2 separate regions of the Homo sapiens genome follow, and region 2 is linked to region 1. The links come from fine-mapping of genetic effects on gene expression. A gene starts in region 1. The other region holds a variant in brackets. All regions are shown on one strand. Distances are from middle to middle.

The links. PIP is the estimated chance that this variant, and not a neighbour inherited with it, causes the effect.
Region 2: its variant is fine-mapped to the expression of EPHX2 in whole blood (INTERVAL, PIP above 0.99).

What each region holds. Positions count from the first base shown.
Region 1 is chr8:27,488,130-27,493,504 of GRCh38, forward strand. EPHX2 (epoxide hydrolase 2) reads left to right here and starts at 3,014. Exons shown (of 19, transcript NM_001979.6): 1 at 3,014-3,180. The coding sequence starts at 3,080. RefSeq lists a cis regulatory region at 757-1,071 and a silencer at 2,818-3,097.
Region 2 is chr8:27,542,320-27,547,694 of GRCh38, forward strand. It overlaps EPHX2 (epoxide hydrolase 2), which reads left to right. Exons shown (of 19, transcript NM_001979.6): 17 at 1,430-1,510; 18 at 1,867-1,925; 19 at 2,125-3,245. The coding sequence ends at 2,203. Among named protein-coding and RNA genes, the nearest start is that of EPHX2, 54 kb to the left of the region's middle. The variant A/G (reference allele first, on the strand shown) is at 2,238.

The DNA.
Region 1 (5,375 bases):
TCCCTCCCAACCCCTAGTGGTTAAACAGATTTTATAAAATAGGGTTTGACAATCAAGGACTAGCAGGAAGTTGCAGAAGGCACAGGAATGGCAGAAAACCCAAAATAAACCTTAATGAGGTCAGTGTACATTCATTATGAATTTAGTGATTGAAATCAGGTGTAATTTATAAATTTTCACTACTACATTAGCCATCTTTTATGATTCATGCTATCACCTAAAACATATTTCATAAATATTAAAATTAGAAGACATAGGGGTTAGGATTTACATTTCAAAAAGCCACCCAGTTCCCATAGCCCTGCTGGGTAAGCCCTTATCTCTCTGTACCTTAGTAGCAGAAAACACAGGAGAAGCACGACCATGAAAAAGGGCAAAGTGCAGTGAAATGCAATTGAGACCTTTAATCTTTGCCTAAGCAATTCAGCCAGAAAGCTCTGTAACTCACAAGGCATTATAAAAATATTCCACACCAGAGCTATTTACAAGTTAACTGCTCCTGAATAAATAAAAGTCCATGTGATAGCTTCATGGCTTTCTCTTAACCAAAGAGGAAAGTAAAACTCATATTTCTATGTTTTTAAATTTTTCTTCTCAAAAGGGGGCTTTATGAAATCTAGTTCTGTAGGTATGTCGTTCCTCTACACTTTACTGCTTGTATAAATATACTTACGTATTCATAAGCAATACTGTGCTAGATGCAGAATTCAGATGCAGGCAACAGAAATCACTGTAGTTATTTTAAATAGAAACAGAAGAAAGGGATTTAAGATGAGAGACTGCAAGCCTACACAATCTTTGAACGGAATGGAGGAGTGAGCTCCAGACTGAGCCTTTAGGAAGGACTCCCAGAAAACACCACCATAGAACTAGAAGCTGCTATCTCTGCCTCAATCAGCAGGCCACCGCTAGAAACACGAACATATGGTTTGGCTGGGAGCCAAGGATCTGGAAGCAACTCCGTGGTCTCGGGACTGAGCCACTGAGTCAATGGGGATGCCAGTTTGTAAGATAGGGAACACACTAGGAGGAACAGGCGTGGGAAGTAGAAATGCAGAGAGAGTTCTGTTTTAGCCATGATAAATTTGAGATGCCTGTTAGACACTCAAGAGAAGATGTTCAGTAAGAAGTTGGATATTGACGTTGAGTAAGATGTTGAGTAAGAAGTTGGCAAGTCTGGAGCCCAAAGGAAACTCTAAGTTGGAGATTTAATTTCTTTCTTTTTTTTTTTTGGAGGTAGAGTCTTGCTGTGTCACCCAGGCTGGATGGAGTGCAGTGGCACAATCATGGCTCACTGCAGCCTCCACTTCCTGGGCTAAAGTGATCGTCCCACCTCAGCCTCCTGAATAGCAGAGACTACTGGCATGCACCACCATGCCTAGCTAATATTTTATTTTTATTTTTTATAGAGAGAATGTCTTGCTTTGTTGCCCAGGCTTGTCTCAAACTCCTGGCCTCAAGCAATTCTCCCACCTCAGCCCCAAAGTGCTGGGATTACAGGTGTGTGCCACCATGCCCAATCTGGAGATTTAACAGGTTTCATACTATATAGGTCAGGCTGCAATTTTCTTTCTATTTTTTAAAATTCAATTATACCTTTGAGATCAACTAACTTCATGAGAAACTAGCTTGCTGTACTCCCTTCTCTGCCTATCTTTCAGTCTTCAAATCCAGAGTAATCCAGTTTCTACCATAAAGGGCCCACAAAAAGTGTTCTGAAACATCCGGTGTCATCCAAGTCCAAAATTGGACAGCTTTTTTTTCAGTTCTTCCTGTAACATTTGGCAGTGTTGGCCACTCTCTGCTTCTTTGGCAAGAATCTCAGAAAACACTAATAACTGCTCCAGGCAGGAGCCTGGAAGAGGTTACCAAGCTAGAGAAGGAAGCAACAGCATAGCTTGCTAAGGGCAAACAGCCCAGAGGAAACCCACGGCTCTGGTCAATCCTGTTGTTGATTGCTAGATCCAGAGACTGTTGTAGACCTCCCAGTTACAGTGAGGTATCTGACAACCCCTCACAAGGTTCTTGAAGCTCCGTGGTGGAGGGTATCTTGGATAAATCCACAGAGACACATTCAAGAGTAAATTCTCCACTGTTGGAGACCTCACTCACTCTGTTTGGTCTCCACCAAAGACACGGTTTTTAATTCATGGAGCTGCACTACAACAGCTCAAGAACTCCCAGCCAAAGTTTTAGTTTTTCTAGGAACATAAACGAGCCAATAGTGTGGAAATCGGTGATTAAAAACAAACCTCGCACATTTTAAGACAGAATTATTACAAGTAGCATGTACAAAAGGAAAATAATAGCCTACATTTAGTTCTTCTAAGCTTCATTCCACAAGAGATTGAAATCGAAGTATTCTGGGCTGGCACACGATAGCTGGAACATCATATTTTATTCTAGAAACACATTTGCCTTGGCAAAGAAGAGCGTGCCTAGAGGAGTGGTCAGGATAGTGAGGGATCTGTGATCCTTCGTTCTGAATCTAGAAAAGTCACTGGATATGCCCCTCCCCCGCCCCCCAACACGGTCTTATGTTCTGAATGTAGAAGTCACTGGATGTGCTGACACACACACACACACACACACACACACACACACACACACACACACACACACACAGAGTCTGTGGCCTCTTTCCCAGGCATTCCAAGTCCAGCAAGTTCGCAGGGAGCTGTCAGTCCGTCCAGGAAGGCCCGGGCCTGGGTTTGCCTCTTCAAGCAGCTACTGCAGGGGCGTGGGGAGGGGGCATAAGAGACTTTGGACTTTCCTTTGAGACAGTAGAAAGCGTTACATCCAGAGGCGAGATTCTAGCCTGGGGTCCCCGCCTTCCCGGCCTCCTCTTCCTCTCCCTCTGACTCCCTTTCCTGTGCCCCTCCCCCTGCCTCTTTCCCGGCCAGAGTCCAGCCTTAACCCGGGCAGAGGGCGGAGTCCCGTTAAGGGGGTGTGGGGAGGAGGCGGGGCCAGGGCAGGGGCGGGGCAGAGCCGGGCCAAGCTGGGCGGGTCATGCGCCCTGGCCTTCGCGCATCTCCCAGGTTAGCTGCGTGTCCGGGTGCTAGGCTGCAGACCCGCCGCCATGACGCTGCGCGCGGCCGTCTTCGACCTTGACGGGGTGCTGGCGCTGCCAGCGGTGTTCGGCGTCCTCGGCCGCACGGAGGAGGCCCTGGCGCTGCCCAGGTAAGGGGGCCCAGCGCCGCCGCCGCAGTGGGTCGGGGCCTCAGGAGGCAGACCGCGCTGGGCTTGCAGCCCAGCTTTCAGATTGCTCCTGTGCCGGAGCCCTGCGAATCATGCGAATCATGAAACTGAAGACCTGGCCCTGAAGTCCCAGTGCATATGAGGAGATCCGTTGTCTTTCTAAATGTTCATAATTAAACGTTGCCAAGGTCTCCAAAATTGCTTTCTGTGAACTTTTCCAAAAGGGAGAGGAGTTACTCATGGAGCTTTGTGCTTCTGCTGCCTCCTGTCTAATGGGGTGGCGCTTAAAGATGCGAGCCGAGATTCAGGAGAGAAGAAAGTTCTCTCCCCAGGTGTGGGTTGCATGCTTACTTGTGTAATAGCAAACTGCAGCAACCGCCCAAAGCCACATCACTGGGAAATGGTAGATGGGGTGTGCAGAGTGAGAGCTCAGGGACTTGGGAAAACACCTGTTCTACTACATGAAAAAACCACCCCACCAGAATCTGAAGCTATTTATACAATATGGTTTCAGCTATGGAAAAAAGGTACATGCAGAAAAGTGCCTGAAAGAAATAGGCCAAAGTACATCAAATGAGATTAGGAATAATGTAATGATTTTCTTTCTCTCTCTCTTTTTTTTGTGTTTTTTTTTTTTGTAGTTTCCAACTTCTAAATTTATAAACAATGTATTATTCCCACATTCAGAAAGGAGAGAAGTATACTTATTTATAAAGTGAAAAAGAAGGCCAGGCATGGAAGCCATTGTTCATATCCTCCTTTTACATATGAGGAAACTGAGGCACAGAAAGAAACCAGCTGTCCAAATCACATAGCTGTTAAAGAGCAGAGCCAGAAATCCAACCCCAGTAGTCCATGTCCGGAGCCTTTGCTTTTAATATAGTAAGGAAGATGAGATGGCAAGTAGCTTGAGGGAAAGGCATGTAATCTCTGTGCTTTGGGAAGCTAAGGTGGGAGGATCACTTGAGGCTGAGAGTTCAAGACCAGCCTGGGTGAAAGAGCAAGACCCTGTCTCTCCAAAAATAAAAATAAAATTAGCTAGACATTAGTGCATGCATGTAGCCCCAGCTACTTGGGAGGCTAAGGCAGAAGGATTGCCTGAGCCCAGGAGTTGGAGGCTATAGTTGTGTCCAGAGTTGGTTCCTGTCGGTGGGTTCGTGGTCTTGCTGACTTCAAGAATGGAGCTGTGGACCTTCGCAGTGAGTGTTACACTCGTAAAGATGGCGCAGACCCAAAGAGTGAGTGATAGCAAGGTTTATCGTGAACAGCGAAAGCACAAAGCTTCCACAGCATGGAAGGGGACCCCAGCAGGTTGCCGCTACTGGCTGGGGTGGCCAGCTTTTATTCCCTTATTGTCCTCTCCCATGTTCCATTTCTGTCCTATCAGAGTGCCCTTTTTTCAATCCTCCCCGTGATTGGCTACTTTTAGAATGCTGCTGATTGTGCGTTTTACAGAGCGCTGATTGGTGCATTTTACAATTCTCTTGTAAGACAGGAAAGTTCCCCAAGTCCCCACTCGACCTAGGAAGTCCAGCTGGCCTCACCTCTCAATCCTCCCTCATAACAGGACACCCCACCTGCTACTGGGAACTGGGTGATGACCACTCTAGCTACTTCCTGCTGGATAGGGGCAAAGAAGGGGCCCTGCCGTTGTAGTGTCCTCCAGAGGGGAACTCTCTAGGCCAGTCAAAGGGCCAGTGGGTCAGTCTAGCAGTCCTCGGTAGAAGTTGTGAGTTAAGCTCATTTGGGGTTCCATTTGTAAGACCATCTGTAGCTTGATGGCCTTGATCCTGGAGGAAACAAATTTGAGGAGGAGGTTAAAAATACAGGGACTGAAGGTGAGTAATAGCAAGATGGCTGTCACGGGACCTAGAAAGGGGAGAAGCCAAGTCACCCAACTCCAGAGGTTGGTATAAGAATTTGAAAGGTGTTGTCTGGTTTCAGAAGCCTTTTCCTGTAAATGCCAGGCAGCATCCTGTACTATCCCTGACTGGTTAGTTTAAAAACAACACTCCTCCCCTAAGAAGGTGCAAAGTCCTCCTTTCTCAGCAGTGAGGAGGTCTAGACCTTAGCGGTTTTGGAGAGTCACTGTTGCCAAATAGTCTATTTGGGATTGTAGAGTAAGGATAGATTTATTTATTGCAAACTGTCTGAGAAATCCTTTGAGAGTGTATGGT
Region 2 (5,375 bases), 54 kb after region 1:
TGAGTCTAATCCCTGTGTGACCCTGGGAAAGGTACTTAACCCCTCTGATCCACTGTGGCTTCTTCTGCAATATGCAAGTGGCAAGAACAGTGCCTCCCTCACAGAGCTGTGTAAGGATGAAATGGTTGAAGGCATGTGACCTGTTACAAGCAGTACTGGGAACCTATTAGCTCCATTAGTGTTCCTTGTCATTATCATCATATGACCGATGAAAATGACCAAACTGCAGTTGGACAGACAAAATCTCTCAAAGCGTGGAGGAAAATATTGACAAAGGCGCTGGGAAGGTGAATCCCAATGGTGCTAAGGTCAGAAACCCTCCTCTTCTGCAGTTTATTTTTTGAGACAGTCTTGCTCAGTTGCCCAGGCTAGAATGCAATGGCACGATCTCGGTTCACTGCAACCTCTGCCCCCTGGGTTCAAGCAATTCTCCTGCCTCAGCCTCCCAAGCAGCTGGAATTACAGGAGTGCGCCACCACACCCAGCGAATTTTTTGTGTTTTAGTAGAGATGGGGCTTCACCATGTTGCGCAGGGTGGTCTCAAACTCCTGAGCTCAGGCGATCCACCCACCTCGGCCTCCCAAAGTGCTGGGATGACAGGCGTGAGCCACTGCACCCAGCCTCTCTTCTGCAGTTTCCAGCTGGATCTTCCTCTCTCCTCCCCCACCTCCTCCCATCCCATCCTCTCCCCCCCCCGCCCCCCGCCCAGTTCACATTTTAGCTTGGAACTTTCTAGAGTTTACAAACCTCATAGAAGCCTCAGGATTCGTTTTAGCCACAAAATCATTTTTGACCTTCTCCTGGCTCCTGGTTGTGGGAGGAGGGAGGGGTGTGGAGAGATGCCCATCACTCTGGGTGTAAATGAAAATAGTGCACGTTCCTCAACCAGGGATGGGTCAAAGCTGCTTGGAAATTAGGGTAATGGTGGAGCGAGAACAAAGGAAAAAACACAGAGGCTTTCCTGGCCTTCCTGTGCATGCCTCCCTGTGTTCAACTCATTTGCCAGCAATTGGAAGTTACTTTGCTGCCATTCATGTCACATTGATTACTACTGTGGCTGCCCCCATTTTCTCTGGAACCTTGGTCGCCCCTTTTAAGCATCTATTTAATTCAGGGAAGAGGAATCTTGATCTTCATTCAAGGGTGTCTTCTGCCTTCTTGGTGCCATCAATTCGGTTCTCCCAGTTACATGCAGCTCAGCACACGTTCTCACTCACACACATCTGCACACATAAGACCCATATTGGCCTCTGCACTGCTGAAGCTGTTATTTTAAAGATCTCCAGTAATAACCACGAGTCTGTTGTGCAAAGTTCGGCAGATACAACGTCAGGACCACAGCAGGGTGGCGAGCAGGGGTCTTTCAGAGGAGGAGGGAGGGCTTCCTTTGTGGAGTGCTGGCCACTTCTGTTTCCTGTTCTCCCCCCAGATCCTGATTCCGGCCCTGATGGTCACGGCGGAGAAGGACTTCGTGCTCGTTCCTCAGATGTCCCAGCACATGGAGGACTGGGTGAGGGAATGGCCCTGTACAAGGGTCATCAGTGCACCCCGGGAGAGGGCACGGGTGCTCAGAGGGAAGACGGCAGCAGAAGATACACCTTGTCATGTGGATAGGACCATGGTTGAAGCACATCATCAGTAACATCACTGTCCCCCCATTGCAAGCAGCAACCGTGACTGTACCTTCCTTTCCCCTGCATGGATGTGGGGTCTCATTCATTCATTATTCCCTTCCTAAATCATGCAGGGTTTGGGCAGGGTGGCCTGCGGGGAGCAGAGAGAAGGCGTCCATTGCCCATTGCACTAGCTAGAGACACACCCATCTGCCTTCTTCCATTTACCTTTCTGCCTGGGGTTTCCTTTCAGATTCCCCACCTGAAAAGGGGACACATTGAGGACTGTGGGCACTGGACACAGATGGACAAGTAAGGAGGTTGGGGGCTCCTGGGGTCGGGGAGAGCAGGGCCCCCCGTTCACCTTCCATAAAAGCTTTCCTGGTTTCATTGTGCTGGCTTTGGCCTGGCTTAGCCACTCATGTCACTCACCTCTGCCTTCGAGTTGGCTGGGTAGGTGCAGACAAGTGTGAATGGCTATTTTTTTCTTTTACTTCTCCCTTTCCCCCAGGCCAACCGAGGTGAATCAGATCCTCATTAAGTGGCTGGATTCTGATGCCCGGAACCCACCGGTGGTCTCAAAGATGTAGAACGCAGCGTGTGCCCACGCTCAGCAGGTGTGCC[A/G]TCCTTCCACCTGCTGGGGCACCATTCTTAGTATACAGAGGTGGCCTTACACACATCTTGCATGGATGGCAGCATTGTTCTGAAGGGGTTTGCAGAAAAAAAAGATTTTCTTTACATAAAGTGAATCAAATTTGACATTATTTTAGATCCCAGAGAAATCAGGTGTGATTAGTTCTCCAGGCATGAATGCATCGTCCCTTTATCTGTAAGAACCCTTAGTGTCCTGTAGGGGGACAGAATGGGGTGGCCAGGTGGTGATTTCTCTTTGACCAATGCATAGTTTGGCAGAAAAATCAGCCGTTCATTTAGAAGAATCTTAGCAGAGATTGGGATGCCTTACTCAATAAAGCTAAGATGACTATGCTGCTGGCTGTCTTTGTTCTTGGAGAGGTGGAGTGACTGTTCACGGAGAATGCACGGCATGGGGATGAACCCTTTCCCTCTGCTTTTGAGCCCTGTTCTGGGCTCCAAGGTGCTGTATGATCTAGGCCGTGCTGGCCAGGAGACAATCCTATGGGGATGGCAGTGGTGTCTTGTGCTCTGTCCCCTAGAGCAGTCACTGGCCACAGGTAGCCACCTGCCTTTCTCCCGGCTTCCCTAGCAGAGTTTGCTCAGGCACAAATGTGCACCTGGAGCATTTGAAATGTGCTAGTGAGGCTGAGGAAGAGAATTTTAAATTTCATTGAATTGTAATCAGTTTAAAGTTAAATAGCAGCAGCTGCCATGAGGCTCAGGCAGATCCAGCTCATCTTCCCCTCTGCCCCCTCCTCCCTATCTTCCCCTCTACCCTCTCCTGCCTCCTGTCACATCCGGTTAGGCTCCCATCTCACTGATGTGTCTCCTGCAGTGGTCTCTCCCCTGCCCTGCTTCCAGCCCCAGAGTCCTGGAGCAGCAGCCTCCTCACGGGTCTTGCCGCCCACATGGTTGGATCCTGAAACTCGCAGGGCCTCCCCCAACTGCCCCTGCCCACCCCCAGCCCGGCCCCATCACCCTCCAATTCCTAACCGCCCTCCAGCAGCACACTTGCAGGTGCTGATCCTCCTTGACCCTCTGCCTAACTTACCCATTCTTTGCCTGGAATATTCCTCCTGCCACCTCCTCCAAGCCCATAGGCTGGGTTCCGAGCCCTTTCTGCCTGCCCCCCTTGCATGGTTATCGGGCTCACAGATGCACGCACAATGGCCTCGCTGCTTGCGAGAGAAAGTGGTCCCTCCAAGCTGAGTTTGGCATGATGACGGGCATGAGTTGGCCAGGTCACAAGAGCCTGAGTATCTGTGTATAGGGAGAAAGCCAGGAGAGGTTTGAAATGGAGGCTGCTGGCATTTCTTCACTGCCCTAGTGCACCTGGAGTCTTCCATGCACCACCTCTGATCCTTCCAGAGAGTCCTTCCCATTTAACCGAGAGGGAAACTGAGGTTCAGATAATTTGCCCAGGACTGCTTGGCTAGATGGGGGCAGAGCCTGGATTCAGAAGCAGGCTTTCTGGCTCCTAAGGCTGAGCTTTTTCTACAAAAAAATGTTCTCGTCGCGCCACTGCACTCCAGCCTGGGCAACAGATTGAGACTCCGACTCAAAAAAAAAAAAAAAAAGAGAAGTTCTCCTTTCTAAATCTGGAGCCAGACCACCTAGGTTAGGCCTCCGGTCAGCTGCATACTCGCCTTGTGACCTTGAAAAAGGATATCTGTGCCCCAGTTCCCTCATCTATAAAAAAGGGGACGTTAGTAGGACCTAACTCATGGGTGGTTGTATCAAGTATGTTAATAATATGCACAGAGTTCTAGAACAGTGCTTGGCATGGAGGAAGTGCTATGGAAGTATCAGCTATAAGATTTCCAGTTTGTCTTAGGACAAGACCTCTAAGGGCTTTCCATTTCCAGCCATGCCACCACCATCTCAATCTTTTGCATCTGAGAATTAAAGGGCTAATTTAAAGGCAATCATGAGGACTGGGGGAAAGGCTTACACCAGATCACATTATTTTCCTAACTGGGTGTATTCAAGCTCATTTGTAAGGGAGCAGTTGGGGGAAAGGAAATAATCAAAACCTAAAAGCGTCCTTTACTGGAAGGAGCACAAACAGCAAACCTGTCTTCCCGAAAGTCTCGCTTTTAATATTCTATCCAGTCATCTCCATCAGCCATCAAAAAGGCCTCAGAAATTCTGCTCCTTTGGCAAGTAAGAGTTGAATAACTCCATTCCATAGCATTGCCAGAAAATATAACTGGTTATACAAGATTGAGGGCTGTATCGGTCTGTTCTCCCATTGCCATAACGAACTACTGGAGACTGGCTACTTTATAAAGAAAAGAGGTTTAATTGGCTCACGGTTCTGCAGGCTTTACAGAAAGCATGGCTGGGGAGGCTCCAGAAAACTTACAATCATGGCAGACGGTGAAGGGGAAGCAGGCACATCCTACGTGTCTAGAACAGGAGGGAGAGAGAAAGAGAAGGGGGAGGTGCTACACACTTTTATAAACAACCAGATCTCATGGGAACTCACCATCACGAGAACAGCAAGGGGGAAATCCGCCCCCAAGATCCAGTCACTGCCCACCAGGCCCCACTTCCAACATCGTGGATTACAATTTGACGTGAGATTTGGGTGGGGACAGAAATCCAAACCGTATCAAGGGCCATAAAGGACAGTGGACTGGAAGAGGTCTTTAGGTTTTTCAAGAAGATAGTGGAATGTCCAGGGCTATGTTTCCTGGTCTGCTTTGAGGACCTTTGGGCCACACGTCAACTGTTGCAGTGGTGGTATCAGGGCATTCCCTGGAACAATCAGGGAAGATTTTCAGATGCCATTTTAAGTACAAATGGCAAGGAGTGTGTTCAAAATGATTTAATTATAAAATGCTATATTTTGGGATTGAATTTAATTTGTAATTAACATACTAGTACATATTCATGGGGTACATAGTGATGTTTTGATACATATAATGTGTAGCAATCAGATCAGGGTAATTACACATGTCATCTCAAACATTTATCGTTTTTGTATTGAGGACATTTAATAACCTCCTTCTGGCTATTTAAAACAATGTATCATTGTTGACTGTAGTCATTGCTCAGTGCTATACAACGCTAGAACTTACTCCTCCCATCTAGCTGGAATTTGACATTCCTTAAATCCCTCCC